Regions from separate parts of the Homo sapiens genome. Here regions 2 and 3 are each linked to region 1. The links come from fine-mapping of genetic effects on gene expression. A gene starts in region 1. Each other region holds a variant in brackets. All regions are shown on one strand. Distances are between the middles of the regions.

Evidence for each region. PIP is the estimated chance that this variant, and not a neighbour inherited with it, causes the effect. A credible set is the group of variants that fine-mapping cannot tell apart.
Region 2: its variant is the best candidate, but not a certain one, in a credible set for the expression of C14orf39 in minor salivary gland (GTEx, PIP 0.51).
Region 3: its variant is the best candidate, but not a certain one, in a credible set for the expression of C14orf39 in skeletal muscle (GTEx, PIP 0.81).

Annotation. Positions count from the first base shown.
Region 1 is chr14:60,484,758-60,487,525 of GRCh38, forward strand. It overlaps C14orf39 (chromosome 14 open reading frame 39), which reads right to left and starts at 1,306. Exons shown (of 18, transcript NM_174978.3): 1 at 1,188-1,306; 2 at 273-329; 3 at 124-180. The coding sequence starts at 321.
Region 2 is chr14:60,571,541-60,574,308 of GRCh38, forward strand. It overlaps the pseudogene RPL37P5. Among named protein-coding and RNA genes, the nearest start is that of SIX6, 64 kb to the left of the region's middle. The variant T/C (reference allele first, on the strand shown) is at 1,145.
Region 3 is chr14:60,609,181-60,611,948 of GRCh38, forward strand. No RefSeq gene overlaps it. Among named protein-coding and RNA genes, the nearest start is that of SALRNA1, 29 kb to the right of the region's middle. The variant T/C (reference allele first, on the strand shown) is at 1,586.

The DNA.
Region 1 (2,768 bases):
CTAGAGAGAACTGACACAAAAGTTATAACGCCAACAATAAGTTGCCCTAAACAGAGCAATTGTATGTTATATGCCATAAGGAATTAAAAGACTAAAATATCTTGATCATGCAAAGCTACTTACTATTAATTCTTTGAATCATCTCTTCTTTAGTACTTATGTCTTGCTCATACTGGAAGACTAAAATAAATAATTATCTTGTGACTTCAATTCATTGTTAAAATATCAAATGATCATACAAAAAGCTACCTATTTTTTCACTTTATACCTACCAAATTCTAGCAAAAGTCTGTCCAAACTGACAAACAGGCTGTCATTCATCTTGGATACTATGTTAAATGAAAAAAAAAATTATAAGATTTTCTGAAGTCGTATGCAAAACAGGATATATTTCGTAACGACCTTTTCAATATAGCATTCTTCACAGGAACATGTGGGCAGAGCCAGAACTGGAAGACGAGAGGCCCCCTTGAGCCCATGGCGACATTCCCAGCCCCTTCCCGGGCCAAGCCCAACGAGCGCTTCAGAAATCGTTGTTGAGTCGGGGCACGACTTGAAGTTTTGGGGATGGGGTGGGAAGCACCCGCATAACCGCTTATGCGTGGGATTGCAACAAGCATCCGGATCTTCCAGGGTTCACGGACACCCAGATTTCTCCACAGGATATGCCCTTTAAAGTAAACGCTCTGAATATGTCCCTTGGTGGCGTGTGTACAACCACGTGTAGCAAAATTCTAACGAAAGCCCTTCCCCAACACCCGGGTAAACCTAGAGAAACAGTGCGATTTCGCATTTACGAATTTACCACGAAGAATAAAAAAATTGGAGGTTTTCACAGAACAGCCAATTCGCATTACGGCATACGCCTGAGGCGGGGTTCCTGTCTACCGTGCCCCTCAGAGCCCAGGAACCACAGCCCGTGCGCCTCCCGCAGTGGGAGTTCGCCGGCCGACTCCCACCCTCACAGCCTCCTGTCCTGGCTTCCCCTCGCCCGAGGCTGCAACACCGCATCCCCCCCATCCCCCGCCGCGCCCTCAGCCTCGGGCCGCACCAACCCAGGGGATAAGGCGACTCCGGTCGCTCTGAGGGGCAGGGCCAGCCAGCCCCCTCCCACCCACGCACACGCTCCCCCTCAGAGCCGCCGGCCCAGAGAAAAACCGCCACATGCAGCTCCCTTCCACACGCACCTAAACAGCTCCTCTGGACCCGAACGCCCACACCCTCCCTCCCTGGGGTCCCAAACTCCACTCAGGACGCCACAGCGGATCCTAACTACAAACGGTCCCCGGAGCCCTGGGCTGGACTCGCTCAGCCCCGCCCCCACGCCCCTGGTACCAGCCCTGAGAGACCCCGCGGAGCACGCCGCGGGAGCCGCAGATCGCGCTGAAGAGCAGCGAGATCGCGCTCTGGACGAGACCTGCGCGGCTGCAACCGCTCCTTCTTCGCGGGTGGAAGCGCGGAATAAGCCCCGTAAAACCACAGAAGTGGGTGCTGGAGTTAGAGGACCCTCAAAGAAGTAGAGACCTGTCAGAGACTCTCCTGTTTTCTTGAAGACAAGTGTTTTTTAAAGCCTATTTATTCCTCTTGTAACAAGTTTTTAAAAATATTTTGGAGTACAACAATAAAATTGATATTAACTTTTAACAAGAGTAAAAAATACTCAATTCAATAATCAAAATTCAATTCTGAATTCAGCATTTTTCAAAACATCTTAAAAAGCAAGCACAACTCAAATACATATTAGTTGAATGGACATTTTGAGACTGACTCATTTGCTCAGTTTCAAATAAAGTACATTTTCTGCCCAAAATGCTGTCTTTAGGTAATTTATGCTCTTAGGCTTTGTCTGCCTATCCAAAGTGAAATAAAGAGTGTAAACAAAATCATTAAGCAGTTCAGTCCTCCAAAGTGCCTCAATCCTTTGTATATTTCTCGTAGAAATGTTTTTAACCGTAAATGATCACAATAATTGTCTCAAGTCACCAAAACCTAAGCTGTTTCACGGAATATTTAAGTGAAAAAGAAGGTTTCAGAAGTTTTTCTTCCTTAAGTGCCTCAGATCAGATATGCATAACCAATTTTATTATAGTGTGCTGTCATATTGCTCACTAGTTGGTATTAATATTCAACAAAACTAACATGTTTTGATAATGTAACAATTTAGCAGATTTATTCTTTTGTGTGTGTGTGAAAAATCTTTTACTTAGTTTTTCCAGCTTTATTGAGGCATAATTGACAAATAAAAATTGTATTTACCACGTACATGATATTTGGACGTATACATACATTGTGAAATGATCACCACGATCAAGTTAATTTGTATAACACATCCATCACCTCATATAATCATTTTTGGGTGTGTGTGGTGAGAACCTTTAAGATCTACTCTCTTAGCAAGTTTCAAGGACACAATACAGTATTATTAACTATAGTCACCATGCTGTACATTAGATCTCCAGAACTTATTCAATCTGCCTAACTGAAACTTCGTACCCTTTGACCAACATATTTCCTCATTCCCACCTCCTCCCTCCCCCAGCCACTGGCAACCACCATTCTACTCTCTGCTTCTATGGGCTCAGCTTTTTCAGATTCCACCTACAAGTGAAGTCATATAGTATTTGTCTTTCTGTGCCTGACTTACTTCAATTAGCATAATGTCCCACAGGCTCATCCATCATCCATGTGGTCACAAATGACAAGATTCCTTCTCTGTTAAAGCTGAATAAAAGTCCGTGTGTGTGTGTGTGTGTGTGTTTATCCATTCA
Region 2 (2,768 bases), 87 kb after region 1:
AAGCTGAAGGTGAAGGTGGGCACAGAAATGAGACCCAGTCTCTCCAGAACAGATTGTTCATGTTAGAATAGAAGGAAATAAAACTTAAAAAGGAAGGTAAGATCCAATTTTATTTTTTTGTTTTTTAAACCAGAACATTTATTGAGTGACTAATCATTGAAATTCTTTTTTTTTTTTTTTTTTTTTTGAGATGGAGTCTTGCGCTGTTGCCTGGGCTAGAGTGTAGTGGCAAGATCTCAGCTCACTGCAACCTCCGCCTCCTGGGTTCAAGAGATTCTCCTGCCTCCACCTCCTGAGTAGCTGGGATTACAGGCATCCGCCACCACACCGAGCCAATTTTTTGTATTTTTAGTAGAGACAGAGTTTCACCATGTTGGCCAGGCTGGTCTCGAACTCCTGACCTCGTGATTTGCCTGCCTCGGCCTCCCAAAGTCCTGGGATTACAGGCATGAGCCACTGCAACCACCCAAATCATTGAAATTCTTAAGATGAACTGGATGCTGCAACAGCTGCCCTCTTTGGTTTATGTGTTGTTCCTTCATGGAATCAATGCTTGAATCTGAGATATACAATTTTTAGGTGCCTCATCCGACCAGTCCCAGTGCTATTTCGTCTTTTAGCCTTGGCACCCCAGTTACACTTCCTCTTGCGCTTGGCAGGGTAGCCACGTTTGCCACAGGTTGACATCTGAAGGTGGTAGGCCTTGGAGCTGCAGTGGTGGCACAACATGCGCATCTTCTTGTGACGCTTTCCCAACGACATTCCCTTCATCTTGTTGCTTCTGTGGTCGACACCAAAGAGATGGGAAGAGCAGATCCAATTTTAATGGAATCTTCAAAGTTATGCAGAAATGTTTATAATATGTAAAGCCCTTAGTGCAGTGTCTACTCATAATTGAAGGCTTGGCTAATATTAGTTGCTGTTGTGTTGCTGTTATTGTTGATATTGTTGTACAATGAAGAGCCATAGGAGACTTTTAGGAGATGTGCCACAGAAAGCAGTGCTTTATAAACTTATTTGGCTGTTATGCACAGGATGGACTGAAAAAGGAATAACTGAAAATGAGAAAACCAATGAGGCAGTGGTCTAGGAGTAAGGCAATGAAAGAAGAGAAATGAATAAATAAATTCTACTGCAACTAGTA[T/C]TTTTTTGTCTGTCAGCCATTTCTCCACATGACACCAAGTGGACAGTCATAAAAGCAAAATCTTCCCGTATTAAGAACCAGTGATGCAGGGCCAGTGGCATGCAACTGTAGTCCCAGTTACTTAGGAGGCTGAAGTGGGAGGATTGCTTGAGCCCAGGAGTTCGAGGTCAGTCTAGACAACTTAGAGGAACACCATCTCTTAAAAAAGAAAGAAAGAAAAAAAGAACAACAGAAAGAACCTGTAAAAGTAGGGTTCAGTAATCCTATAAGGCATTTAGGGATTACTACAGCACTCTCCAGGGTGACGTCTATCTCTTGTGCTTTTGTGAAGAGTGAAATTAGGCAGCATAGTTACCATTTATCCAACCCTTAGCCTGCTCCCTTAGACCCTGGACCCTCCAGTGTATCCACAGTAATACCTTGGAGGGCATCTCCATTCTTCAGAAACACTGCCTTTACGAACTCCACCTAATGCCATAGAATCTACCCAGGTGCCAGGTGCCAGGTGGGAATGAAGCCTTCAGCTTCTGAAAAGAAGACAGAGCCAGTCAGTCTCATGGTAACTGTCCCTCCCTCACTTTGATGGGATTGCCTCCACTTCTGCATAGAAGACACGCATTTCGACATGTCTGAGAACTTTAGCCAATGGCACCAAGGCTGACTGGCCTTCTTTCAAAAATTCCTTAGTTGACTTCTACCAAGTGACTATATAGTGCTGCAGGTTAGAGCAAGTAACTTACAAACAGTCCATGTGGTTCTTAATGGCAGTGTTCAGGAAGGTAATCTTGGGAAGATTCTGAAGTGTTTTGTGTCTCAGTTTGTTGCTCTATGTGCCAGGAAAACAATCATAATCACTCACAGGGAGATTTAAGTCTTAACTAATGTTTGCAAAACACCTTGACATCCTCTAATGAAATTGCCACATCTAAATGACATATAATTAGAGGCAGGCTTGTACCTATGATCTTTGAGAAAAGAAACGCACAAAGAAGTAATAATTTGCACATCTATCATTGTTCATTCCATGATCAAATTCTTAACAAATACATATCACCATCCTAACTTTCTGGTTAAGAAAGCAAGTCTTTAATAGTTAAAGCACTTGAAATTACTACATCACCTTCTACTCCTATAGCCAAGGACACATCTGCTTTTACCAGTCCAGCAAATCTGAGATCCAGTCCAACTTATTTAAACACAGCAGGGAGAAAAAAAAATCCCAGACCCAAAAAGGTAAATGACTTGCCCAAGGTCGATCTAAATTTGGCCCCAGAAACTTATTCCAATTTGACAGCTTCAATTTTTAATTTTTCAAAATAGTCTGAATTGACAAGTTAAGTCACCAAAAAATAATTTAAAAAGCAGAAGAAAAAAATTTTTTTTGGTTGGGATATCAGGCTAATGTGAAATAGAAGTTATTCTCTATGCCAACCAGGGTAAGGACTCTTGAAACGTCCTAATTAAGTGGATATGAGCCAATGATTTCTCTTCCAAAATATTTTAGTTTTGCAAGTAATGTCCCTTCCATGTCTGAAAAAGAGCATTTCTAAATGCATAGCAGATTTCTCATATTTTCTCTGGAAGCCTTCCCCAAGCTGTTTCATAATAGGTGACTTGCTACTCA
Region 3 (2,768 bases), 120 kb after region 1:
CATTTGACATACCAGAATAATTTATCACTGCAGCAAGTACCATCACATTTCAATAAAATGTGAGCAGTGGGGTCATGCCAGTAATGATTCCTTGAGAAGGCAGAGGGCAGAAAGGGAAAGGGATGATTTGCGATGATAGAGTAGGGTATGAAATGGTCATCCATATCCAGTTCAAACTCACCCTTCTCAGTCACTCCAAGGACAAACAAAAACTCATTTTTACAGAGTTAGAGTAAGATATTCAATGATTTGAACATGAAAACTAATGATTTTCTTTCTCTCTGGTCAGCTATTCTTCCTCTTTCTCAAGAGGTCAAGTTTGTTACCAGCAATCACAAGAGCCCTGAGTTCTTCCACACCAACAAACATGGTGCCACTGGGGAATCTGAGACATACAGAAAGGAGGAGGTGAAAAGAGGTGAGGAGGAAACAGAAATGAAAAATGAAAAGAATAAGGGAAAATGAGAAAAAGGAAAAATAGGGCTATTAAAGAACTTATATGACAATACCTGAACCTACCAATCAATATTAACATTACCAAAAGTGAGACATCCGGATATTTTATGCCTTGGAATATGATGCATTCACACTTTGCCACCTGAATCTACTTGAAGTCTCTGGCTACAACCACACCTTTACAGGAAACAAAGGGATAGAAAAACAAGTAACTGTAAAACCACACTACAAGGAAACATCAGCCAAATCCAGACATTCTATGGGATGAATGACCTAATGTCTTAGGTAGAGTTCTCTAACAAACAGACTCTGAGACAGAGAGCCATGTGTGGGAGATTTATTGTAAGTGATCTCAGGGAATATACCTATAAGAGAGAGAGGCAAACAGGATTGGGCAAAGGGAGAAGTTAAACTGCAACACAGTTGCAGTGGAGAACTGGGCCAATCCCATAGGGTGCTCTGGCCATTCCAAGATATCCTACACAGAGGCCAGAAGCCAGGCCATTTTACCCTCACAATGACCTTACTCATATACTCACTCACTATGTAAAAAAGTAGGGCCGGGCACAGAGTCTGGCCACCTGCTCTTGCAGCTCATCTGTGCCCCGTCGCTCATTCGTGTCCAATCCCATATGCACTACTTCCAGTTTACAATGGATTCCTTATGGGCCCACCAAATCTTATGACTTGGCGGTTCTGACAAAATCCAGCCTGACCAAAAGGTCATTATATATTCCAGCATTACCAGGGCACAGTAGCTTCAGGGAGCTGTATTTGTGATTGGCGTGTAATTCTCTACTGCAAAGGGCATGACTTTGTGCCAGACCCTGGGCATCTATATGTGATTTTTCTACTGGAGTTTGTGATACACACCTTTACCCACTGTAGATACTTCCAGTATCACAGTCTGCAGGTCACAGGACCCAAGTGGCAGGGCTGCTTTCGCCACAGCCTGCACCTGCAACAGACCCCTTTCCTTCTCTGGGCCCCTATCAAATCTGGAAATATTCCATGGTTGTTAGCAAATGATTAAAGCAGTATTCCTAAGTCTAGAATATACTGTCCCCAAGAACCCAAAGCTACCTACCAAGTGTTTTGCTTCCTTCTTAGTAGCAGGAGGTGGAAGATA[T/C]TATAATTTGTCGTTTACTTTGGAGAAAATGTCCTGGCATGTCCCAGACTACTAGGATCCTTAAAACTTCACAGTTGTGGTGGACCCTTGAATGTCTGTAGGGATTATGTCCTACCTTCTGGAGCACAGAAGTCTTTAACAAGGTCTCTGTATTAGTCTGTTCTCATGCTGCTAATAAAGACATGCCTGAGACTGCATAATTTATAAAGGAAAGAGGTTTACTTGACTCACAGTTCAGTATGGCTGGGGAGGCCTCAGGAAACTTACAATCATGGCAGAAGGGGAAGCAAACACATCCTTCTTCACATGGTGGCAGCAAGGAGAAGTGCTGAGCAAAAGGGGGAAAAGCTGCTTATACAACCATCATATCTTGTGAGAACTCACTCACTATCACGAGAACAACTGGGGATAGCCACCCCCATGATTAAATTACCTCCCACTAGGTCCCTCCCATGACACATGAGGATTATGGGAACTATAATTCAAAATGAGATTTGGGTGGGGACACAACCAAACCATATCATTCTGCCCCTGGCTCCTCCCAAGTCTCATGTCCTCATATTTCAAAACACAATTATGCCCTTCCCAACAGTTCCCCAAAGTCTTAACTCATTGTGGCATTAACCCAAAAGTCCAAGTCCATAGTCTTATCTGAGACAAGGCTAGTCCCTCCCACCTATAAGCCTGTAAAATCAAAAGCAAGTTAGTTACTTCCTAGATACAATGGAGGTACAGGCATTGGGTAAATACATCCATTCTAAATGGGAGAAATTGGTCACAACAAAGGGGCTACAGGCCCCATGCAAGTCTGAAATCCAACAGGGCAGTCATTAAACCTTAAAGTTCCAAGATGATCTCCTTTGACTCCATGTCTCACATCCAGGGCATGCTGATGCAAGATGTAGGCTCCCATGGCATTGGGAAGCTCCGCCCATGTGGCTTTTCAGGGTAAAGCTTCCCCCCAACCCCTCCCAGCTGCTTTCCCAGGCTGGTGTTGAGTGTCTGTGGCTTTTCCAGGCACATGGAGCAAGCTGTTGGTGGATCTACCATTCTGGGGTCTGAAGGGTGGTGGCCCTCTTCTCACAGCTCTGCCACCCAGTGCCCCAGTGGGGACTCCGTTTGGGGCCTCCAACCTCACCTTTACTTTCCACACTACCCCAGCAGAAGTTTTCCATGAGGACTC